Homo sapiens: one gene and its partners. The protein of the gene in region 3 purifies or fractionates together with the protein of the main gene of each other region. This does not show direct contact. Each region holds a gene or a part of one and is shown on either strand. Other genes may lie near its edges.

The links.
Region 1: the proteins of SLC39A10 (region 3) and DDX18 purify together in Homo sapiens (affinity purification with mass spectrometry; one large-scale study listed by BioGRID and IntAct). This does not show direct contact.
Region 2: the proteins of SLC39A10 (region 3) and MPZL1 purify together in Homo sapiens (affinity purification with mass spectrometry; one large-scale study listed by BioGRID and IntAct). This does not show direct contact.
Region 4: the proteins of SLC39A10 (region 3) and QSOX2 purify together in Homo sapiens (affinity purification with mass spectrometry; one large-scale study listed by BioGRID and IntAct). This does not show direct contact.
Region 5: the proteins of SLC39A10 (region 3) and DIPK2A purify together in Homo sapiens (affinity purification with mass spectrometry; one large-scale study listed by BioGRID and IntAct). This does not show direct contact.
Region 6: the proteins of SLC39A10 (region 3) and ZNF787 purify together in Homo sapiens (affinity purification with mass spectrometry; one large-scale study listed by BioGRID and IntAct). This does not show direct contact.
Region 7: the proteins of SLC39A10 (region 3) and DSC3 purify together in Homo sapiens (affinity purification with mass spectrometry; one large-scale study listed by BioGRID and IntAct). This does not show direct contact.

The regions. Positions count from the first base shown.
Region 1 is NC_000002.12:117,824,691-117,828,190, reverse strand, and holds part of DDX18 (ATP-dependent RNA helicase DDX18), read right to left. Parts: coding exon 3,483-3,500; intron 3,252-3,482; coding exon 3,090-3,251; intron 2,745-3,089; coding exon 2,592-2,744; intron 1,923-2,591; coding exon 1,809-1,922; intron 1-1,808. UniProt on the Homo sapiens protein: ATP-dependent RNA helicase that plays a role in the regulation of R-loop homeostasis in both endogenous R-loop-prone regions and at sites of DNA damage.
Region 2 is NC_000001.11:167,724,982-167,728,481, reverse strand, and holds part of MPZL1 (myelin protein zero-like protein 1 isoform a precursor), read right to left. Parts: intron 1-3,500. UniProt on the Homo sapiens protein: Cell surface receptor, which is involved in signal transduction processes. Recruits PTPN11/SHP-2 to the cell membrane and is a putative substrate of PTPN11/SHP-2.
Region 3 is NC_000002.12:195,716,226-195,719,725, reverse strand, and holds part of SLC39A10 (zinc transporter ZIP10 precursor), read right to left. Parts: intron 3,090-3,500; coding exon 2,721-3,089; intron 1,475-2,720; coding exon 1,394-1,474; intron 1-1,393. UniProt on the Homo sapiens protein: Zinc-influx transporter. When associated with SLC39A6, the heterodimer formed by SLC39A10 and SLC39A6 mediates cellular zinc uptake to trigger cells to undergo epithelial-to-mesenchymal transition (EMT).
Region 4 is NC_000009.12:136,239,313-136,242,812, forward strand, and holds part of QSOX2 (sulfhydryl oxidase 2 precursor), read right to left. Parts: intron 1-3,500. UniProt on the Homo sapiens protein: Catalyzes the oxidation of sulfhydryl groups in peptide and protein thiols to disulfides with the reduction of oxygen to hydrogen peroxide. May contribute to disulfide bond formation in a variety of secreted proteins.
Region 5 is NC_000003.12:143,978,323-143,981,822, forward strand, and holds part of DIPK2A (divergent protein kinase domain 2A isoform a precursor), read left to right. Parts: intron 1-3,500. UniProt on the Homo sapiens protein: May play a role in cardiomyocyte proliferation through paracrine signaling and activation of the PPI3K-AKT-CDK7 signaling cascade.
Region 6 is NC_000019.10:56,111,296-56,114,795, reverse strand, and holds part of ZNF787 (zinc finger protein 787), read left to right. Parts: exon of another isoform or gene 1-233; intron 234-391; exon of another isoform or gene 392-976; intron 977-2,350; exon of another isoform or gene 2,351-2,430; intron 2,431-3,500. UniProt on the Homo sapiens protein: May be involved in transcriptional regulation.
Region 7 is NC_000018.10:30,994,243-30,997,742, forward strand, and holds part of DSC3 (desmocollin-3 isoform Dsc3a preproprotein), read right to left. Parts: intron 2,807-3,500; coding exon 2,549-2,806; intron 255-2,548; coding exon of another isoform or gene 228-254; exon of another isoform or gene 212-227; intron 131-211; coding exon 1-130. UniProt on the Homo sapiens protein: A component of desmosome cell-cell junctions which are required for positive regulation of cellular adhesion. Required for cell-cell adhesion in the epidermis, as a result required for the maintenance of the dermal cohesion and the dermal barrier function.

The DNA of each region.
Region 1 (3,500 bases), about 78 Mb from region 3:
TTACAAGAAAAAATCAAACAACCCAATCAAAAAGTGGGCGAAAGATATGAACACACACTTCTCAAAAGAAGACATTTAGGCAGCCAACAGACATGAAAATATGCTCATCATCACTGGCCATCAGAGAAATCCAAATAAAAATCACAGTGAGATACCATCTCACACCAGTTAAAATGGCGATCATTAAAAAGTCAGGAAACAACAGGTGCTGGAGGAGATGTGGAGAAACAGGAACACTTTTACACTGTTGGTGGGACTGTAAACTAGTTCATCCATTGTGGAAGACAGTGTGACGATTCCTCAAGGATCTAGACCTAGAAATACCATTTGACCCGGCCATCCCATTACTGGGTATATACCCAAAGGATTATAAATCATGCTGCTATAAAGACACATGCACATGTATGTTTATTCACAATAACAAAGACTTGGAACCAACCCAAATGCCCATCAATGACAGACTGGATTAAGAAAATGTGGCACATACACACCATGGAATACTATGCAGCCATAAAAAAGGATGAGTTCATGTCCTTTGTAGGGACATGGATGACACGGGAAACCATCATTCTGAGCAAACTATTGCAAGGACAGAAAACCAAACACCGCATGTTCTCACTCACAGGTGGGAAATGAACAATGAGAACACTTGGACACAGGGTGGTGAATATCACACACCGGGGCCTGTCGTGGGGTGGGGGGAGGGGGAAGGGATAGCATTAGGATATATACCTAACGTATATGACGAGTTTATGGGTGCAGCACACCAACATGGCACATGAATACATATGTAACAAACCTGCACATGGTGCACATGTACCCTAGAACTTAAAGTGTAATAATAATAAAAAAAGAAAGAAAGAAAGAAATGTCAACCTGATGAGCACCTGTGCTGTGGGAACAAGGAGGCAGGAGATCAGCGATGGCTTCCCAGCAAAGACAGAGGCGAGCTGAAACCAAGCATTCTGGACAAAGTGTGCAAAAGCTGTAGAGCAATTTCAGGGAACTGCCTGCAGTTACAGGGTAGAGGAAGCCTATCATCAAGACTATGCCAGAAAGGCCAATGAGGATGTAAATGTCAGGCAGGAGAAGGCCTGATATGCATCCCCCACATGGCCTAGCAATGAAGAGGCCACTTAGGGTCCTGATGGATTCAATTCTGGTGTGATAGTAGAAAGCTAAAGCCAAATTAGGCTGGTTAGGGACTGAGAGGGAGGTAAATGGCAAGAATATAAGCCATTTTTCCAGTAAGGCTGACTGAGGAAAGGCAACAGACAGTAGCTCCTGCAGGCAGGGGTAGAAGAACAGGTTTAAGGTTGAAGTTACTTTTTTACAGTGAGAAATTTGAGATGGTAAAGCGCCAACCGCAAGGAAGAGACTGTAGGCCAAGAGTTGATGAATAGGAGACAGAGGGCAGGGGAGGAGGCAGAGGCTAGAGCGAACAAGGATTCCCCACTGCTTCACATGAGGTAAGAGGAAAGAAGGGGAGCAGAAGCAGAGATGACTAGGTGTGAGGGAGCTTCAAAGGAGTGGAGAAGGTTTCAAAGAGGGCTGGAGGGAACAGGAAAGGAGAGGCTGGGACACAGAGGTGTTGCTGGGTAACAGAGCTAGAAAGCCGAGCCATGTGGGCAGTTCCTTCTGTGCTCACTTCTTGGGCTAGAAGTACATAAAACCTTACTTGCTTAATTGCCATAAGAATGGTTGTAACAGCACTGGCCAGACTCGAGACTCCTCTGACACATGTAGAAATGTTGCTTGCTAACAATCCCTACACCAAGAGAAATCTTTCTCCAAGTACAGATCTTTACCTTGGATTGTTTCAAGTAGCGAAGAAAACCCAATTCTTCTGGGCGCAAAATGAGCAAGGCATGCCCTCTCCCATTTAGGCCTCTGGCTGTTCTACCCACACGATGAATATATTCCTTTGGTGGAGAAAGAAAATCTGAGTTAACGCAGTGACTTCCACATGAGCCCATTTGCGTATCTGCATCCTGAGTATGTGCATGTCTGTACTGAGATGGTGTAGTCCCACGGTGCTGGGCCACACACACCTTCACCACACCCCCACAAAGCTGGGCCAGCAATCGCTCTGTGCACATCACCCCCAATAGGCCAATGATTGAGGCCCAAAAAAAAAAAAAAAAAAAAAAAAAAAAGGCTGGACATGATGTTTGCATTAACAGCGATCTAATAAAATGAGTATTATGTGTGCTTCATCATCAAAACGGCTTTAATCCAGTGTTTGTTGAAAATACTTCTCAATGAAGCTTATTCTACCACATATACTACAGAAGTTTATCTACTTCCTTAAGCAATTTTATTTCCTTCAGGCATCTGCTGTTCTTAAGAGATCATTCCAAGGATCTCATTTTCATAACTTAAGTCCCACTGATCCTTTTCAATCCTCTGGCACAGCCCGTTTGAGCCCTGAAAAGCCTTAAGTACTTTTCAATACCAGAGAAATACTGCAGTCACTGTATAGTAGGGATCTTTACCTTGAATGTGGAATGCAGTTTCCGTCAGGGAACTGGGAGAATAAGTGAACTTTTAATGCAGAGTCATTCTGAAGATATTCCAAAGATGCCAGTTACCTTAGGGTCATCCGGAGGGTCATACTGAACAATCCAGTCGACTTCAGGAATGTCTAGTCCTCTCGCTGCCACATCCGTACACAATAGTGTTCCCGAATCTGCATTGCAGAACTGGAAGAATGTGGTTGTACGCTTATTTTGCTTTTGCTTTCCCTAGAATTAAATAAAAACATCCATTAGAGCTGGAATCTTGAGGAAGACTAGCAGTAGAACCCCCAAATTGTGGAACTGTTACCCTATTTCGAGCTCATCCCTTGGCCTATGTCCTATTTCCCCAACTGTTCCGCAAGCCCCTCAAGGAGGATGGTGTCTTGCACTCTTCGAAAGTCCTCATACCCCTCCACACCCAGCAGCGCTCCCCCACACAGGATCCATCATCTAGTGGTGATCAAACTACTCAGAACAATGTTTCCAGGAGAGGGCAATACCTCCAATCCTACAATCTATAGGATTTAATAAGCATACCCTGTTTTCAATGAGCTCATCATCATCACTTACATGAATGGCCAAGACGGGCAAATCAATGTAGTTCAGCAACTCATAGTGGTATTTCACAGACATACAAGATGAAAAGAAGACCATAAGCTTCTTCTTTCGGTTCTTCTTAAGGAATGTAAAGAGCAGAAGGAATCTCTTTTCAGAAGGACAAACAACATATCCCTAGAAAGCGTTTAAGCAGACAGATACAAATGAACCAAGTGGACATTTTCCATTTCCTAACTTGTGTAATTTCATCAAGAGCACTGATAAACACAGTGTGTAAACTGTCATGCCTCACCTACAGCATTTTAAAAGTTCATTAACCCATTTGCTTTCTGAATGATCCTTCCAACAATTACATAAAAACACCAAGTAAGATCCCTACAGTTTTCAGTTATTGATAAAAAGTACCTGTTCAAGACCATCCAC
Region 2 (3,500 bases), on a different chromosome or scaffold from region 3:
AATCCTAGCATTTTGGGAGGCCGAGGCGGGTGGATCACCTGAGGTCAGGAGTTCGAGACCAGCCTGGCCAATATGGTGAAACCCCATCTCTACTAAAAATACAAAAAAAAAAAAAAAAAGAAAGAAAGAAAGAAAAAAAAGAAAAAAAATTTGGGCAGGGCACGGTGGCTCACGCCTGTAATCCCAGCACTTTGGGTGGATCACCTGAGGTCAGGAGTTGGAGACCAGCCTGCCCGACATGGCAAAATTCCATCACTACTAAAAATACAAAAAAATTAGCCAGGCGTGGTGGCAGGCACCTGTAATCCCAGCTACTCGGCAGGCTGAGGCAGAAGAATCGCTTGAACGTGGGAGGAAGAGGCTGCAATGAGCCGAGATGGCGCGACTGCACTCCAGCCTGGGCAACAGGAGTGAAACTCTGCCTCAGAAAAAAAAAAAAAAAAAAAATTAGTTGGGCGTGGTGGCTTATGCCTGTAATCCCAGTTACTTGGGAGGCTGAGGCAGGAGAATCACTGAACCTGGGAGACAGAGGTTGCTGTGAGCCGAGGTTGCACCACTGCATTCCAGCCTGGGCGACAAAACGAGACTCTGTCTCAAAAAAAAAAAAAAGGAAAAGAAAGAAAAAAGATAATGAATAAACAAAGGGGTTTAAAGGCAAAGATATAAAGATCCCAGGAGACAACCACAATTTCTCAATTTATGCACTATGGTGAACGGAGCCAACTGACCTCTGCTTTCTTACGGCAGCAAAAATTCCAAAGACTTTTGTCTGGACTCTAGGGCACTGCTAATGTCAAACGACTTAGCAAAGTAAGAGTGGAAAAGGAAAAAAGGAATATCATTCAAGATACATGAAGGCTTAATATCACCAGCCTTAGGGGTCAAGTCTCAGAGCCATATGACACTTGAGACCTCAGGAGATGCTTCTAGTTCTTCTAATAATTATACCGTCTTCGATGGGGCTAAAGACTAATCTATAATAAATTATATGCCAAAGCTTACCATTTTACTCTCCCTTTTAAAATGACATCTGTGGTCTTAGAGAGCAAGATTAAAAATCTTTCCAAGGTTGAGGTACACATGAGATGTATGTCTTACACAAATAATTCAAATTCTCAGATAAAAGATATAACTCAAAAACAGTCAGGCTCCAGTTAGAAGGCTCTAATCATCCAGTAGAGACATGACTGTGGCTGTACTATATTAGCTCCAGTGTGGATGCAAAGTGGATGGTGAGAAATATTTAGTAGGTAGACCAGCATCTACTGGATAGAGGGGAAACAGCAATATTTCTGAAAAGCTATGTTTTTCCCAATTAAATCATGTTTTTAAAACTCAGTGGGAAAGACCAATCTTTAAAGAAACCCTATAACATATCCCTTATAAGTTTTAAAAATATTTTATAATACAAATAAGATGTTCCATTTTTCAAAAATTTGCTGCAAATTTTCATATTAGATCAATCATATTTTCTTAAAAGTTGTGATTGTTGGGAATTTAATCTGTCCTTTGGTATTATTTATTTGAGTAGATGTTTCCTGTCTGTCACTTCTCACTAGCATCTAGGCTCCCTGCTGCATCCCATACATAAACAGTGCCTTGTGCCCAGTAGGTGTTCATTTACGTTGAATAAGTAAATAAATTAGACTTAATGAAAACACAAACTTGCATTTTATGTTCTTTTGCACATAGCTGTCTTTCACTTAACATTTATCTTTTTCTTTTGGCAGCATCTAAGCCTAGTGGATATCCTGGAGTTGGAGTAAAAAATATACATATTTTATAAGACTAAGTTTCTATTTTACTATCCTGACTAGTAAATAAGTAAAAGGCCAAGGGAACTGATAATGAGAAATAAGCAGTGCATGAAATCACACTTTGGAAAAATATTCTTCTTGCATAAACACATATTGAGGACCTACTATACCATGCTAAATCATAACTACATATTGCAAACTCCTAACAAACTGTTGTCAAGACATGCCTATGCCTCACTGCCATTTAACAAATATTTTTAGCATCTACCATATCCACTGTGTTAAGCACTAGGAATACTTCTATAAACAAGACAGATGATTTGTCTGTCCCAGATTCTGATGGAGGAAAAAAAAGAGAAGAAAAACCATATAGAAATTACAATAAGGAAGTAAACGGCAAACCAGCAAATAGTAACAGGTAAGTACCCTAGAATAAGGTGGTCAGAGAGGCCTCTCTAAAGATGTGAAACTTAGAGCCTCTGTGATGGAAAGGAGCCAGCCCTGGGCAACATCAGAACAGCTAGTTCAAAGGCTAGGAGGTGGGAATGAGTGTCACAGAGCAGAAAGATGGCAGTGTGGCTTGAATATAGTGAGAAAGGGGTGGTGGGTGGTACAAGTTGAGGTCATAGAGGTAAGCAGAAACCAGATCACAAAGAGCTTTTCAGGCCATGGGAAGTTTAGATTTCATTCCAAGTGCAATGGGAAGCCATTAAGGATTTTAAAAAAGAAGGCAACATGATCTGATTTGCATTTTAACAAAATCATTCTTGCAGTTTTGTGAAGAATGGATTAAAACGAACCAAGATGAGTACTGGGCGTGGTGGCTCATGCCTGTAATCCCAGCACTTTGGGAGGCTGAGGCAGGCCGGTCACTTGAGGTCAGGAGTTCCAGACCTGGCAAACATGGTGAAACCCTGTCTCTACTAAAAATAAAAAAATCAGCCAGATGTGGTGGCTCACGCCTGTAATCCCAGCACTTTGGGAGGCCAAGGCGGGTGGATCACCAGGTCAGGAGTTCGAGACCAGCCTGGCCAACATAGTGAAACCCAGTTTCTACTAAAAAATACAAAAATTAGCTGGGCATGGTGGCATGCGCCTGTAGTCCCAGCTACTCGGGAGGCTAAGGCAGGAGAATCGCTTGAACCAGGGAGGTGGAGGTTGTGGTGAGCCGAGATCACGCTACTGCACTCCAGCCTGGGCAACAGTGCGAGACTCCATCCCCCAAAAAATAAATAAATAAAATAAATTTAAAAATAAATAGAAAAATCAAAAATTAGCCAGGCATGGTGGTGCATGCCTGTAGTCCCAGCTACTTGGGATGCTGAGGCACAAGAAGAATCACTTGAATCTGGGAGATGGAGGTTGCAGTAAGCCGAGATTGTGCCACTGCATTCCAGCCTGGGCGAGACAGAGCAAGACTCCAGAGGGGGAAAAAGAGGAAGAGCAGCTGGGAGGCTATCACAGTAATATAGGCAAGAAATGGTGGTGACTTTGACTAAAAGGCTAGGAGTGGAGGTAGAAAAAACATCAATTCCAGATGCATTTTAAAGATGGGAGAACTGATTGGATGTGAAGGACAGGGAAGAATCAGGGATGGACCCTAGGTTTCTGGCCTGCACAATTAGATGTATGGAGGTTCCATTTACTGACATGGATGGTACAAATTACTGAGATTTAGTCCTCATATACTATGTGCTCATTTCAATTACCAAATTCAGTGAATTCTTATCACATTTTATCTCT
Region 3 (3,500 bases):
GAATCGCTTGAACCCAGGGGACAGAGGCTGAAGTGAGTCAAGATCATGCCACTGCACTCCAGCCTGGGCAGCAGAGGAAGACTCTGTCTCAAAGAAAAAAAAAAAAAAAGAAAGTTAATGCCAAGTGCTGGGAGGGTTGTGGCAACAAGAACTTTCAGATATTGCTGTTTGGAAATCATACTGCTTTAGCATGCATACCCTAGACCTGTCAATTCTGTTTCTGAGTGTATATCTCAGAGAAGTCGACAGGTATCAAGTCTAGAAATGTTCAATGCACTATCTCTGATGGGAAGAAATTAAAGGCCACGTGCTGTGTCCAATAACAGGTGCTACATATGTAAAATGTGGCGAAAGCACATTTCTGAGTACTGGGCAGAAACAACAGATTAAATTAACTCATCGTAATCGGGATGGAGAGTTTTAAAACACAGTAATAAGTAACATAAGGTAAGAAACACAAGGGTTGTATCAGGAAAGCGAATCAAAGCGAGGAGGAAGTAACCCATTTCCCTTTTAGAAAAAAAAAGTGCAGCTCATTTCTAGCGCTCATTTCTAAGGGCAAATGGGAAATGCATTCGAAAAAAAAAAAGAATGAAGTCCAACATAATATATATGATTACTATAGTTGAAAGTGTATCAATAAACAAGAAAACATTTTTTTAAATGAAAAAAGAAAAATATAGGTTTTTAAAGATTATTTTTTGAGTATTCAGTTCCATTCGACCAAAATCACATAAGAAACACATACTAGATTTTTGGGTATTAAGATTATAATATTAAAATATATAAAATGAAAACAGAAATCATCCAACCTTCTTACTTCATAAAATAAGAGCTTTGGAAATAAATGATTACTCTAAAACCTCAGTGCTGGTTAGTAACCGAGTTAAGAACCTATCTATCTTTAATAACCATCCAGGTAACATTTTTGAACATCAATATTAACTTTCTATTATTTATGAAGAAAGACTGCCTTAGGTACATCTAGGACAACTTTCAATTATGTAATTACAAACTTTACCCTGATTCTTTTAAAAATATAGTCTACATGGTATATGAAATAAAAGTAGATTAACAGCAAAATGTGGCATTTAAGAAATATTTCTTTTTAAAAGTTATACTTAGTGAACCAGTCATAATCTATAATCTTCATTATAACAGCATAACTATGTTATTGAATGCAAAGGAAACCACACAGAAATGAACATTTCATCAATCTTAAGGAGCATTTTTTTTTTCATATTTTAACATCATGAAGTATCTTACAATTAGTGACACTATAGTTGCCATCAGCCATTTTTTATGCTTGAACATCTCTGAAATTTGAATGCAATTACAATTAAGGAAGTCTTAGATTTGATGAAATCTGGTAAAATTTTTAAGGTTATATTACCTAATTCATGTGGCAGTTCATGACAGAAGACGGCTATAGAAGTACTGATTCCTCCTGTCAATCCAGCACTGAAAGCTGCACCTGAGGAAGATAAGAAAAAAAACAAGTGAGGTTTGCTGATCTTAACTCTTCACATTTTCATTAATGACAGATGCAGTTTCTTTTGCCTATCTAAATTAATTTCTTAACATATGAGTGACTCACTTATCTTACACACTATAGTTTTTGAACATATAGTGGAGTATAATAAGTATGTAACAACTAGAGAAATAGCTATTCAATAAAAGCAATATTCCATATTCAATTTAATTCTCTATTTTTGTAGCCTTCCAACTCACTAATATCTCGGGAATAGTAACAATTTTCAGAACTTCAAAGTAGTGGTTTGATGGTCAACTTTAAGTCTTATAAGTCTAAGATTGTACTTGCTCTCTCACATTGATCTTTATAGGGATTTAAATGGCTAACATCCTTATCAAAACTTTCCTAGACCTGGAAAATAAATGGCACAAAGTATTACTTGTCTGGTAGTATTGAGGACTGAGGTCAGATTTATAAATGCATCTAGGTCTACTAGCAGAATTATTTATTCTTTAGTATTAACAGCTACTATAGGCTGAGCAGGTGGCTCATGCCTGTAATCCTAGCACTTTGGGAGGCTGAGGCAGAAGGGTTGCTTGAGGCCTGGAGTTCAAGACCAGCCTGGGAAGCATATCTAGACTGTCTCTATTTAAAAAAAAAAACAAAAACAGCTACTGTAAATTCAAAAACATGGTCTCCGCTTTCTGAAAGAAACCAAAGCCTACTTCTGGGTGCTAAAAGAGTCTGGATCTCAAAGAAAATTATGTATTGATCACATTTAATGTTCCTTTTAACTGGTAATATCCGTTTACTCTAGCAAGATACTAATATATTTGAATTTAGTACAATGGATTTTCAATGTTGTAAATTTTTTTTTTTGCTTTTTCAAAGATATGGCAAATTTATTAAACCTAGGATTGAAATTAAACTGTTCTCTTTTAGGGATATGTAAATACATTTGAAAATATAATGTTAAGCAGTTTTTTCAATATGGTAACTCTACTTTGAGAAATCAAGTTATTAAAGAAATATACTACAGACATTTGTTTACGTGTTCTAAAAAACCCCACTAAATTATACCCTTACACCTCCAAATGTAACAACTGAACACAAAACTGTAGCCTTTGGGAAAAATCAACTGACCAGAGTGATACATAACCATATATTTGTTAAGCTCCAGCCAAATTTAATCATACATATTATAGTCCATAAGATTAGCATAGACAGTGGTTTCCAGTCCACTTACCAATTGCGAGCCCATCACTGAAGTTGTGGATGCCATCCCCCATGATCACCATCCAGGCTATATTAGCTATTCCTGTTTCTTTCAGATCGGATCCAGAATGACAGGGGCCATGGGAATGATGAGAATGCTTGTGGTGCCACTGGTGATTATGCTTCCTCAGCACAGTTTTGTTCTCGCCGTGGTGGTTATGTGCAGCAGCATGGAGATCATGCTCATGAATGGTATGTAATCCATCACTGTGAGAATGGTCTATGATTTTCTCCTCTTCTATACAAAGGTAATTTTTAGGAGGGGATTCTTGTTGGCCTTCTAAATCTGTCAGTTCAGTTTCATTAAGTCGATCTTCAGAAACAACCGAGTCATCAGTTCCTGTATTTATAGCAAAGGATATGCTTTATCAATAATTAAATGCATGGATATTTGCTAATTTAAACAGAATAGCAGTGCAATGAACATTTCTTAAGTGAATGTCTTTTAGAATTCTTAAATAATTTCCTAAAATTATTTAGAAGCCATTCTAATAGAAAAATGATTTCTGGAGTTAAATTAAAAAATAAGCAAAACAAAACAAAACAAACATACACACACAAAGAAGAAATTGGGTTTGGGGGGAGATTTAAAAGATGCTCCGGATGAGGTCAACGGGAGGGAACTGAAATCAAAAGCAGGCAAAGTGAGGAGAAAAACTGGAAAGCATGAAGATAAAAGTTCGGAAAGAGTTCATCTTTGGATAGAAAGCCTTTTTTAAAAAAAATTACTCCCTCTAGACCCCCTCCTCCC
Region 4 (3,500 bases), on a different chromosome or scaffold from region 3:
GCTGGGGCCACAGGAGTGGGGATCTTGCTATGTTGCCCAGGCTGGTCTTGAACTCCTGGGCTCAAGTGATCCTCCCACCTTCCAAAGTACCGGGATTACAGGCGGGAGCCACTGCCCCGGCCACTTCCTTGTTTTATTTGTCTTCCTGTTGACTGTCTGCTACTCCCTCTAAAGCACAGGCTTCCTCAGGTGGGGACCTCCCTGCTTTGTTCCCTGCTGTTCCTCCAACAGATGAATTTCCAGCGCAAATTCATCCCGGAGCGTGAATTCACGCAGAGCCCCTGCACACACTGCAGGGCGAGGGAAGTCCAGCTCCATCCACCAGTCCGCAGGGGCAGCACCTCGACCTGCCTCAGTAGAGCTACGCTCCCAACACCACCACCCCACTCAGGGTCAGTCCTGGTGAAGGGGCATGCGGGCACCCCACGTCGCCTTTGTCTGTCCTTGAAAGAATGCCAGGCCGTGTGCTCAGGGAAGGCCGAGCAGATGAGGGAGAATTTCAGTTACACAGGCCTCCCTCAGCAGCTGAACAGGCGCCAGGAGTACCGGCAAGGACTCGGCAGATGGACGGTATTCATGGCAACACAAAAGATATGGTAGTCCATATTATCAAATCAAATACAAAACACGTAAAAGGCTTAGCTTCAGGGCACTGGCCTCATTCAACGGGTACCCTCCCCTTCTCCTGCTCTGCCCACCTGTCTAGCTCTGAACCTCTAAAGCAGAATGCAAATGGCCTGCTTTCATTGGGCCTCTGGGGTTAGAGCCAGCTGAGAGGCACAGGGTGTGGCAGGGGCGGGGGTGCCCAACCCAGCACAGCCAGGGGGTTCCAAAGGGAGGCAGAAATGAGACCGCAGGCCTATTCTCACTTCTGCTCAAGAGCCTGGCTATTTTAGGACTCCAGTCTTAAAAATACTTGGGAAATAATTAAGCTTCTATATATAGTAGATTAACATTTATTTCAAATGTGCTTGTCAAATAACTCTAATACTGAATCTAACAAGGTTAACTCTTTACTGCTTGTCACGTTCTAATGAAAAAGTCTACAGAAGTCTAATGTATAGTCCAGTATCAAATCGTTCTAGAAAATGATTACAGTAAAGATAAAACAATCTCCCAAGTTGAAAGGCAACTAGGGAGCTGTGTTTAAGGGACAGAGGTCCACTGCAGCCTCTCCTTCCTGAGTCAGGGCCATGCTGGGGTCTCGAACTCCGCATACCAGTCCCTGGAGAAGACCCTCTCTGGGTGGAGCCCCCTCTTGGCTGAGCAAAGGTCTTCTTAGCTAAGCTCCAAGTTCAAGGCACAAGTTTGGAATAACAGGCCTGGGTAGAAATGAAACCCACCTAGCGACCAGGAGAGCCTAACACAAATCACCTAGAAGTTGCCAAGGGCTGGTCTGAGAAAACCCGGGCACACGCTACGGTCGCCTCATCTGGGGACTGAGGGCAGGGCTGGGTCCCATGGACTCTTGATCCCCAGCATTTAACTCAATTCTGGTAAACCAAAACTACACGTTCTTCAGCCTCGAAGGGTGCTCCGAGGTGACAGCAATTCCAATGCTGTTTATCTGTTGGTAGGGAATGACAGTCCCTCAGCCCGTCCTCTGTCAGGGAAGCCCAAGCAGTGCTTATGACCTGGGTCACCCCATGGCACGACGACCGGCATGACACAGCGGAGACGGCTCCCTGGACGTGGCTGTAAGGCCCTCTTAGCAAACCATCCCGTCTTACTTCAACAACAAGTAAGTGGCCTGGGTCTCTCGGTGTAGTCTCAGACGCACCAACCACAGCCACTGGGGAGGCCAGCGGGGAGCCCGGCTGCTCCGATGCACCATCCTTTCTGTAAAATACTCATGTGGTCGCCACAGCGGGGCTACATTAAGCCATTTCTGGGCCCGTAAGGAGACAGGAGGCCTCCACTGCCCAACTCTTCCTCCTTCCACCCTCTCCATCCTCCCGAGTCCAGTGAGCACCTGGCAGCTCTCACGGGCCGTCAGCCCCGCCAAATGCCCGCTGACACCTGCATGTCCCCCTCCCTCTGGCCCTTATTGTTTCTTTTTCCAGTAAACGGACAATGAGCCTGTGGGGAACACCAAGTTCTAATTCATCTCCAAGAAGCCTGCAGCCTAGTCGAGTAGACAAGAAACCAGACCAAGTGGGACAGAGGAGCTGGCAGCAATCACAGAATGCCCTACCCTTCCTTCAAGAGATGTCGGATGTGTCCAGCTCCCAACCCCCACCTGTCCTCTACAAAGACACAGGAATGAACTGCCATGGCTCCAGGTCACCCACACCTGGACACCCATCCCGGCCTGTCACTCAGCTGCGTGACCGTGACTATCCCACGCAACCTCACGTGCTATCACCTGCAACATGAGCGCCCCCGCACTCCTGAGGACAGGTGTGGGAGGACTCGGCCTGTTCCACGCAACCTCATGTGCTATCATCTACAACATAAGCGTTCCCGCCCTCCTGAGGGCAGGTCTAGGAGGACTCAGCCTGTTGTGGGTGGTGGCCTGCCCTGTTTTCTCAGGCTGACCAAGTGAAGGAGATGGGAGGGAACAGGCACCAGGGCCACAGAGGGCGCACGGGGACACAGGCCCTGCCTTTAGGGTGCACCCTCTTGTCCACTCAAGACTGCAGAGGCATTTCGGAGATCTCACCGGTCAGACGGGCCAAAGTGTAGCCCCAGGCCCTGGTGCCTCATCTTCCATCACAAACCCAGCAACCATCACTGCCAGGCAGATCTTCAGGAACCCAACAAGGTTTTGTTCTGCAAAGTACTTAGAAGTGACAGGCTTAAGCCAAATCTCCACAAACACTAGAATGACACTTGGTCACACCAAACAGTACAACTTTTGTTTCTTAAGCCACCTTCTTATAAGAAAAAACATTTATTTTCCCAGCCTTGAAAAAGCCAGTCAAGAGCTAAAGTTCAATCCAAATTTCTGAGGAAAACAAAGGTGCCCTGGCCTGTCCTGCTCCTTCCAGCTGGAGGCTCCTGGGAAGCAGAGCCCACACCTAACCATCCTCTCCAGCAGCCACAGGCATGAAGAACGCAGGGCGTGGCGGGCGCTGGCCAGGGGGACCAGTGGGAGAAGGCGGCTGGACACTCTAGGTAGAAGTGGGGGCCCAAGCCATGGCCTGTGTGCCCCCAGGGGATCAGCAGGATGACCTAAGTCACAGGTGATTGATCAGGGCCACAGGTGACTGATCTGAGTCAGGTCAACAGGGACATAAGAAAACATGAGAATGTTGACAACGGGAATGCCTGCATGCAGCCAGACCCCTGCACTGCCACGGGCAATGGGCGCCCTATCCCTGTGGGACAGCTCCACGCAGGGATGACAGACAGGGAGCCAGGCGCCAAGCAGACAGTTCTGAGCTGGCAGGTCTGGGCTGGGGCTGTGGAGAAGCAGGCATTTCTAACAAGGCCCTAAGTGGCCCTACTTTGAGAGTCCCAGCCTTAGAACAGCTCCGGGGACTCCTCAGTGCCAAGGG
Region 5 (3,500 bases), on a different chromosome or scaffold from region 3:
GTAACATGACTGAAAATTATTAGTGTAAGGTGAGGTTAGTATAAGGTGATAGGAAGTTGTCTGTGAAATTCTTGAGAGCTCTTTGAATTTATAACCAAAAGAACTGAATTTGTCTGTTCATTTTACAATCTGTTACAAGGCATTTGGATTGAAAGGATGGAAAGATGGCCGTAGGAAACAAGTAGCTTACTATGTAGGAGGTAGGTACACAAATAACTAATTATTATACAATCCATTTAATAAGCCCTGTACAAAAGGTATCTATATCTATCTATCTATCTATATATATATATCTATATCTATATATATATATATATCTATATATATATATATATATCTATATATAGATATATATATATCTATATATATATATATATATACTGTCACATGACTCAGGGAGGGACATCTCATTGTATATTGATAGGAATGGTACCAGGGAAAGTTTCAGAGATTTTGCCAATAGATGGGGGTGGAGAGTGGGAGGAAGGGTGGAGGGGGCAGTATTGATAGAGCATCCATTTCACATTCTGTATTACCACAAAGTTGTTGGATGGTATTGAGCAAGTCACTTAATGTTTCCGATTCTAAGTTTTTTTAATCAGTAAAATGGGGTTGTTAATACTTACCTAACAGGATTGTTTTAAAGATTAAAGAAGAAAGGATTATTCAAGTAATATCTGTTAAATGTTTTCAGTTGTAAAGCTTTTTACAGTGTATTATTTCTTTGAAAATCAGCTTATTCCATTTTTAGACAGCTATAGTAGTTAAAAGTTCTTTAGTACATTATGCTGATGTCTGTCTTAGAAATGTAAAAATCCTACTTTTCTTATTGCAGACATTCAAATGTCACTGTCCTTACATATACGTAAATCATATGTACCTATTCAGGCTATAGTTTTTTAAAAATAGTAGTTTAAAAGGGGATTAGGGATTTGTCTCATATGAAGTGTAATGAATAGAATGAATATGGTAGGAAAGACGGTTTAGATAAGGATTAAGAAGTAAAAGGCAAATAGTTTCTTTTTTTCTCTGTAAATCATTATTATAGTTTAGTAATTCTATTTAGTACATTGGTAAATGGTAGTACAAAAAAACAGGTTAAGTCTAGACCTTAGACTCTGAGACAGAATCTTAAAAGATTTGTAATCTGAAGTAAGTATGATGCTTCAGTGTCTTCGTATTTTTTCTTTCTAATGCTTTTTTGGGGGTTAACTCTGAAATGAAAAGATCTGACAGTAATTATGTGGAATTGGTCAATAGTGCCAGGAACTGATCTGTATATACCCCTGGGACACAGTAAGGGTCAGTTGAGACTAGTAAACTTATGCATATTTAAAACTTGTGAACAAGTGAAGTGTTTTTTGTTTTGTGTTTTTTTTTGGTGGGGGCAGCATTTCTTAAGCAATTTATTCTAAAAGATAATCTATTTCTATTAAATTTAGTTTTTAAAATGTGTTTTGACATCAGTTTCCAATTTTAGATACAGCTGTTGGACATGATATTCAGTAAAATAACACAACCTTACTATTTTCAAGGCATTGTTTAATATTGTTGGAATTTGAGGTGGGTGGAAAATGGCATTCAGAAAATTATTTCATGAAATAAATGGGACATATGCTAGGACTTAAAAATCTTGAAATTGTTAAGCTTCTACAGTATTTGCAATGGATTTTGGCTGCTATTTAGCAGTATAAATTAAGAAGCTAAGATCTTAGAGAAATTTTAGCAAAAATTCAGTAACCATTAAATCATCCCCGTAATTTTACTATATCTCCCCTCCAGACAGTTCACCAAACTGTGAACACATTAGTCTGTCACCAGTACAGTTGACTAATCTTTATGAACAGCTGTTATAACATGCGTTACTACAATGGGATTTCATTCAAATTTGGGCTTTAAAAAATAATTTTAAAACTTAAGTTAGCTCTTTCTTTCTTTTCTTTCTTATGTGTCTGTCTGTCTTTATTTTGATGGAGTCTCTGTCATCCAGGCCGGAGTGCAGTGGCGTGATCTCAGTTCACTGTAACCTCTGCCTCCCGGGTTCAAGCAATTCTCCTGCCTCAGCCTCCCGAGTAGCTGGGATTACAGGTGCTCACCACCACGCCTGGCTAATTTTTGTGTTTTTAGTAGAGACGAGTTTCACCATGTTGGCCAGGCTGGTCTCAAACTCCTGACCTTAGGTGATCTGCCCACTTAGGCCTCCCAAAGTGCTGGGATTATAGGTGTGAAGCCACCGCGCCTGGCCCCTTTAAGCATTTTCTATGCTTTTGATGACATATACTTTCTAAGAGTGTTTTCAAGCTTAAACTTTTTTTTTTTTTGTAGAAATGCCAGTTATGTAGAAAATCGATATTCACATTTTAGATTGTATGTTTTATTAATAGTTTTTTTGAAGTTAGTTTGTTTATACTAAGAACTTTCAAGTTTAACAAAAATCAGTCTTGCATGGTAACACATCTCTTGGTCTGTACTTATTTTCTCTCTTAAGGCAAACTGCAAAGCTATGTTCCTTTTAATGGAATATTATGAGGTAATGAAGTATTATAAAATATTTTATATTGTATAAAAGGAATTTTGATCTTTTAAATTTAGTATACAATATTTTTGGTCATGTAGGAGAAAAAAGAATACAAGCACTTTTAAGTAGACTCTATTTTAATCTATTAGTCTCATGTCATTTATTTTTTGTAAGTAAATAAACAATACCAAAATGTATTCTTTTATGTATCTTTACTCATATATTCCATGTCCACCCTTTTCATGACTGTGTTATGGCATGATAGAATGAAATGGCCTTATTAACCTGGCAGGATGGTGGATATTGATCAAAGGGTTATCGTGATATTTTAAAGGCTTGTTTTTTAGAATAAGGTAAATATACCATAGCATACTGTTTGATTTCAGTATGTAAGATAATCCTGAACATCAAGATTTTGACATGTATTTGTTTTTGCATGGCATACATATAGATGATGCTATAAAGACTGAGTTGAAGATTTCTGTTTGATTCTATAAGTCCCAACATGATCTGGTCCTTGCTTCACTCTCCAGATTCCCTTACCGCAAGTCATTTCCCCATTCATTTCACTGCAGCTGCTTTGGTCTTTTATTCATTTCTGAGAAGATACTTTCAGGCTTTTCATGTGCCTGAACTGCCCCATCTCCAGTCTGCTTAATATTAAACTCATCCTTTAGGTCTCAGCCTGGGTGGAGATCACTTAGGTTAAATAATCAATCTTAACATTATTTTTCCAGCATAATGTTGGCTTCTGGAATGCTCTTATGTAATATATAAACCGTTACCTTTATAAAATCTGAAAAATTCTTAAACAGATGATAAATAAGCAAAAACAAAAACAGAAACAAAAACAAAACAAAAAATAAACCCAAAAAAACCACCCCAAACTAATAAAGTTTAACTTCAACAAAAGGATATTGGCTTGAGGGAGGTTGTGTTAATCTATCTTTTGAATTCATTTTGACTGTTGTAAAGATAATTA
Region 6 (3,500 bases), on a different chromosome or scaffold from region 3:
GCAGGTGCTGGACACCCCTGGCACCTGCCCTCAGGGAGCATTGTGCCCAGGAGCAGATGCAGAGTCCCAGGAAGGAAATACCAATAGAAGTGATATCACCACGCTCGTGACATGGTGACAGAAGGTGCTGACCAGCCAGGAAGTCAGCCCTGCCATGGGAAAGGTGGGGTGTGGGCCTCAGGGAGAAGCTGACATTTGAGTAGACCCTTGAAAGGTGAGACTGAGCCAGGCAGGTGGAGGACTGAGCCCGGCCCCTCAGAGAGAGAGACCAGGCCTGGCCGGGGCAGGTGGAGGAATGAGCCCGGCCCCTCAGAGAGAAAGACCAGGCCTGGCCGGGGCAAGTGGAGGACTGAGCCCGGCCCCTCAGAGAGACCAGGCCTGGCCAGGGCAGGTGGAGGACTGAGCCCGGCCCCTCAGAGAGAGAGACCAGGCCTGGCCGGGGCAAGTGGAGGACTGAGCCCGGCCCCTCAGAGAGAAAGACCAGGCCTGGCCGGGGCAAGTGGAGGAGTGGGGCCGGTCCTTAAGGGTGAAAGACCGGGCCTGGCCAGGACTGAGCCTGTCGGTGCATCAGGAGCAGTGCACTGCACAGCGAGATCCGGGCCAGCTGGAAGGGAGGGGGTTTGCAGAGGTGCCGGAGCCAGATGGAACCCTGTGGTGCCTGGGGAGGAACTTGGATTTTGGATTGAGGGGCAGCCGGCACGTGCAGTGGCAGCAGTTTGGGCAAGGAGGTGATGAACTGAGTTGCTTTTTGTTGAGAACAGTTTTATTATGATATGATTCCCATAGTGTACAATTTGCCCTTTTAAAGTACACAGTTCAGCGCTTGTAGTCCCAGCTACTCGGGAGGCAGAGGCAGGAGAATCCCTTGAACCCGGGAGGCGAAGGTTGCAGTGAGCCGAGATGGTGCGATTGCCCTCCAGCCTGGGCGAGAAAGCGAGACTCTGTTTCAATAAATAAATAAATAATATACAGTTCAGTAAGGTTTTTAGTGTATTCACTGATTTACGCAGCCATCACCACAGTCGATTTTAGAACCTGTTCTTCATCCCAAAAGAAACGCCGTGCATCTTCAGCAGTCCCTCCCTCCCTGCCTCCCTGCCTCCCTGCGTCCCGGTTCCTGGGAAGTGCTGATCTGCTTTCTTTCCCGGGGTGTGCCTCTTGTGGGCAGGCGCATAAATAGAATCGTGCTGTTCTGCATCGGGCTTGTTTTACCAAGCGTGCCGTGTTCGAGGGTCATCCCTGTCACAGCTGAACTTCACACCTGGTTATGGTCGTGTTCCATTACGGTCATGGATGGACCACAGTTAGTTCATCCATATGGACATTTGGGTTGTCTCTACATTTCGGCTGTTATGCCTGATGCTTCTGTGAACATTCGTGTGCAGATTTTTGCGTGGACGGACGCATGTTTTCTCTCGGGTCTATACTAAGGAGTGGAATTGCGGGTTCTTATGGGAGTTCTGGGCTTAACCTTTTGAGGAACTAACTGCCAGGTGTTTCCTATGGCGCCCGCACCAGCAATGGGGGTCTCCCCACTTCTCCTGGTCCTCACCAGCACTTGTTTTCTGAGGCTGGCAGTGGGTGTGAGGTGCTGCCTCCCTGTGGGTTTGGTCTGCCTCTCCCAGACGGCTCATGAGGACATCCTTGCATGTGCCTATCAGATATTTGTCTTTCTTTGGAGGAATGCTTTCTCGGATCCTTTGCCCGGGTTCTAATTGGGTTGTTTGAACTGAGTGACTTCAGGAAGATGAGTTGGTGTGTGGTGTGAGGAGGGCACTTCCAAGAGGCAGGGTGGGAGCCAGGATCGTGGTGGGAGGGAGCGAAAGCCCCAAGGGAAGGGGAATGGGGAGAAGAGAGTGAGGGTGGGAGGGAGGAAAGGGCCAGAGCCCTCCGTGCTGGAGGGGGTGGGGTGGGGGGAACGGCTGGTCTGGGCACCCCAGAGCTCCTCCCCCGCCCCACAAAGGCAGGGCCACATGGGGTGCATGGTGGCTCCAAAGAGGTTGTGGAGTCAGGCTGAGAAGGAGCCACAGGATTTGGTGAAAAGTCAGAGAGGGTGTTAGCCCAGTGGTTGGAGGATGACTTGGGGGGAAGGAAGGGAGGTGGCTGCTCCAGGCTGCAAGTAGAGGGGAAGGAATAAGAGACTGGGGGGAGGAAGAAAGCAGGTGGGTGCCAGAGAAGTTTCTGGGCAGGGAGGGCCACGGAGGGCCAGGAGGAGTTGCTTCCGAGAGTGCGGGGGGAGGAGGAGGTGAGATTGGCAGCAGAAGAAAGGGGATAATTGGCAGGCAGGCCTCCAGAGGGGTGGGCGGGACTTAATAACAACAATAATAACAATCATTTGTGCTAATTGGATCTCTCAAGGGCTGGGGCGAGGGGAACGCACCCCTGCCCGTGCTCCAGGTGCTTCCTCTCTGCAGCGGAGGTCAGAGCCAGGTGAGTAAGCACCTGCAGAGGCTGGGAGAGCCTGAGACCCCGACTGAGAAACGGAGGCTGGTAAGGGAGGCCGGGACCCTCGTTTCAGAAGATGTGCAATTCCCAGCTTTCTGGTAGATTCCTTGAATAGCCCAGGGTTTTCTTGAGAGCAAGTGGGGGGCCTTCTCCTAGGGAGCTGGCCTGGACCCTGAGAGCTGGGTCAGGAGCTGCCTCAGGCCCCCGCAGCTCCTGGTGCCCCCGCCTCTCCCATCGTTCACCTCTGCGGGTGAGGGTCCCATGCCCCCGCCATGAGGTCCTGGGGGTAGGGCCTGATGGATTAGGACACAGGCTTCAGCAGGGGCTGAGAGCATGCCTGGAGGGACGGGAGAAGAAGAGAACTGGGGAGCATTGAATGAACACCCGTCTTAACCCTGGTGAGTCCTCAGAAGCCTCCACTCAGTCCCCACACAGCTCAGCAAGGCACCTGCCCTTCCCGTCCCTGCTTTGCAGAGGAGGCAGCTGAGGCTCAGCCATTTCCGCGGGTGGCAGAGCCGGTGATGACGCCAAGGACTGGTACCGCGGCTGCCCGTTGCTCACAGGGGCACAGTGCTGTCACCCAGGCTGGTTGTTTCACATCTCCCTGGTAGGTGTCGGCCCCTCCCTCTTCTCGGAGAGGAAGTTGGGATGCAGAGCAGTGTGGGCCCTGTCCCAGGTCGCCACGGTGCGGAGTTCCTTCCCGCCTCCCTCTTAGAAGAGCGACCAGACCCTGAGCTCTGGCCCCTCACCCCTTACCCCTCCTCTGCTGCCCCCGGCCCCTCTGGCTATGGAATTTGTGGACCCTTATGCTAAAAGGCAGGAAAAAAGCATCTTCCTTTCCTGGAGGTCTCTGGGTCGGCCAGGGTGTTTTGTGTTTGGCATTTCACCCACGGGTGGGTGCAGAGACCCCCAAGCCCAGGCTAGGAGCCCCCAGCACCAAGCCCTTGTGCCCTTGGACCCCACTTACAAAATATGGGTCAAAGGTGAAGTGACCAGGAATTCCAGGGCAGCAGCTGCTGAGCACGGAGCCCCAGGCTGGGCCTCCCTCCCAGCTG
Region 7 (3,500 bases), on a different chromosome or scaffold from region 3:
CATCTTCTTCCTGCTTTTCACTGCAGCAGCCCACAGAACCAGCTGGAGATCCTCTTCCCTCATAGTTATAAGTGAGGACATAATCTTGGGATGGCATGCGGTCTTCATTCTGATTACATCGATGCAATTTCTGTAAAATTTTTTAAAAAATGAATTGCATTATAGTTTTAAACAACTTAAATATATGAACATAAAATTTATTTTTATTTACCTTTTATGTTTAATTTTTAACCAGTGTGTCCTCTAATGGATTCCTACACACAGAAAATGCAAATGATTGGTCTATATCACAACCATACCATAAAGTCAGTATAGTTTACATTTCTAGTGCTCCATATAAATAAAAAATTATGTATACAAGTTTTATATTTAAGTACATTCAAGTTGTCATTAAATGCTTATCCCTAAATTTTATACACAGAGGTCAGTCTAGTCTAAAAAATAGAGACAATAGTCATACTGGTTAGGAGTTTGAGATAGGATGTCAAACAGCCTTGGTTGTGAGTCAAAGCTCTGGCTTTACCAACTAGCTATATGACTTTGGGCAAGTGACCAAATATCCTTTAGTCTCAGTGACCACCTAACAAGATTATTTTAGAAATTAATGACAAAATAATGACGCATAATACACTTATTATGCCCAGCACATATTAAAGGTACAATACATGTTAACTTGAATCACTATTATATGCAGTTATAAACTAGGTAGGATTTACCACATTAACTTCAGAAGCAAGTTTCCAAGATACTCAAACATGGCAAAATATATACATGCATCGAAAAGTTCAATGAAATTAAAAAGAATGAACATGACCCATATTGCAAAAACTGGGCTTTTATAATGAAGACGCCATGCATTCAGCCACATCTACCCTCTCTGCCACTGGCCTGTCTGCCAACTCGTCAACTGCCATGTCTCCTCCCTTTCCTCACCTGTGTGCCCACTCCTTGCCTATGTGGAGTTCATTGGCATGGCTTACGTTCTTTCTTCATGACATTGTTAGCCTTACCTCCCATTACCTGGTGTGCAACTGAGGAACCCTCCTAAGACTATGTCTTAAGCTTCACTCCATCTCAACCTGATATTACATAAATACTGACTGTCTAGAAGTAGAAAAAGAATTAACACTTGAATTTGACCCTCCAAAATGCTATGGATACATAACCTACAGCCCTATACCAGAGTATCACCCATTTGCATTCCATTCAAGGATTAAAGGTCTACTGTTTGTCCTGCAATGGCACTGGTATCCTCTGATAAAAGAGGTAAAAATTTAGTCCAGAAGAGTGTCTAATCCAGTGGCTTTCTACCTAGCTGCACATTTGAATCATCTCGGAAATGTAAAACAAAAACAAAACAAACAAAAAACCCCAAATTCATTAAATTAGAATCTTTTAGAGTAGAACACAGCCATTAGTTATGTTTTAAAAGCTTCATAGAGGATTTTGCCAAGCCAAGTGGCTCATGCGTATAATCCCGGCACTTTGGGAGGCCAAGGTGGGTGGATCACTTGAGCCTGGGAATTGGAGACCAACCTGGGCAACATGGCAAAACACCTTCTCCACAAAAAATACAAAATTTATCCAGGTGTGGTGGTGTATACCTGTAGTCCAAGCTACTCAGGAGGCTGACATAGAAGGATCACCTGAGCCCAGGAGGTCAAGGCTGCAGTGAGTGGAGATTGCACCACTGAACTCCAGCCTCAGCGACAGAGCAAGACCCTGCCTTAAAAAAAAAAAAAAAAAAAAAAAAAAAAGAAAAGAAAGAAAAAAGCTTCTGCTTCATAGGTGATTTTGGTATGAACAGAGAATTCCTTATTTTAATTCCTTCTTTCTTTCATATTCTTGCTTTCCTTAAAATAAAAGCACTTTACATTCGCATGGTGCTTTGTATATTTAAAATATGTCCTGCAATGGTGACTATAGTTAATAATAGTATATGTTATATTTCAAAATTGCAAAGAAAGTACATTTCAAATGTTCTCACCACAAAAAATAAGTATTTGAGGTGATGCATATGTTAAGTGTGATTTAATCATTCTACATTGCAGACATAAATCATAATATCACTTTGTGCCCCATAAACATATACAATTAAATTTTGTCAATTTGCAATAAGATAAAAATATATATAAATCATGCTATTTAATCTTTATCCTAAAACTGCATACAAATGTTGGTGTTTTCACAGAGAAATACAGATTTCATTTGAAAAGTTTGTAATTGTGAGGAACTAGAATTACTTTCACGATCTTCTATATCAAAAGGGTTCATGAGGTAAATACACAACTAAAAATGAGACGTTAGTGAAGAATATTAAAAACATCCTATATTTATGGGATTTTATAAATTAAATGAAATATGAAAAATGAAATAAAATCTCTTTTAAATTAAATAATGTAACAAAATCAAAGAGCACGGGAAAATGAACAGAGCAAGCAAGAGAGAGCCCACAGAAAAATACAGAAAATATATGTTAATTTGAATTGTCTATTTTTCTCCATTCGGAGGTTTAAATTTTAGACTCAAAACACCTAAGGAAACTCACTTCACCGAGACGGGGTTGAGTAAAACTGTGCCACTCCGAGTAAGTGTATCTGCAGTTGTCCACCTCCGTGTGTCCTCCCCTGCAGGAGTCCAGGGTATGATGATGCCCAGCCCCCCGGCAGGATTCCAAGGTCTGGTTTCCTCCTTTCATCATTTCAATGGTTTCCTGCCCTCCATTTTTCATTCCTGATCCCATAGTACCACAAAAACCTTGGCTAGAGTTGTTGGTAGTTTGGGTCATAAATCCATTGGCAGAGCACTGAAATAATAAAATGAAATAATTCATGTTGAGAGGAAATGGATTCTAAGTTGTCATGAGAAGGCAAAGGAGAGAGAATATTTGTTCAACCTTTTATTCATTCATTCATTCATTCATTCAACAGACATTTATCAGTTTCTAATTATGTGCCCAGATACTGTCTTCATTCATTTTGTGCTGCTATAACAGAATACCTGAGACTGGTTAATTTTTAAAGAACAGAGATTTATTTCTTACAGTTATGAAGTCTGGGAAGTCCAAGATCAAGGAGTTCACATTTGGCGAGGGCCCATCCCATGGCAGAAGGTGGAAGGGCAAAAGAGCACGAGTGAGAGGGAGAGGGAGAGAGGGAGAGAGGAGCAACAGGGGGCTGAACTTGCTTTTACAATAAGCTTTCATGATAATAAACCCATTCTCATGATAAGGACAGTAATCCATTCATGAGAGCAGAGCCCTCATGACCTAATCACCTACTAAAGGTCTCACCTCTCAACACTGTTGCATTGGGGATTAAGTTTCCAACATATCAGCTTTTAGGGACAAATTTCACCATAGCAAATGCAAAAGCCTAGGGATATAAAGATAGACATAGTCTCTCGATGGCTCCAAGAAGATCTTATTCCAGGGAGAGAGAAAAACAAATACTTTGAGAATGTGATTACTCTACTATGTGGGTGAGCACAAAATGTTACAA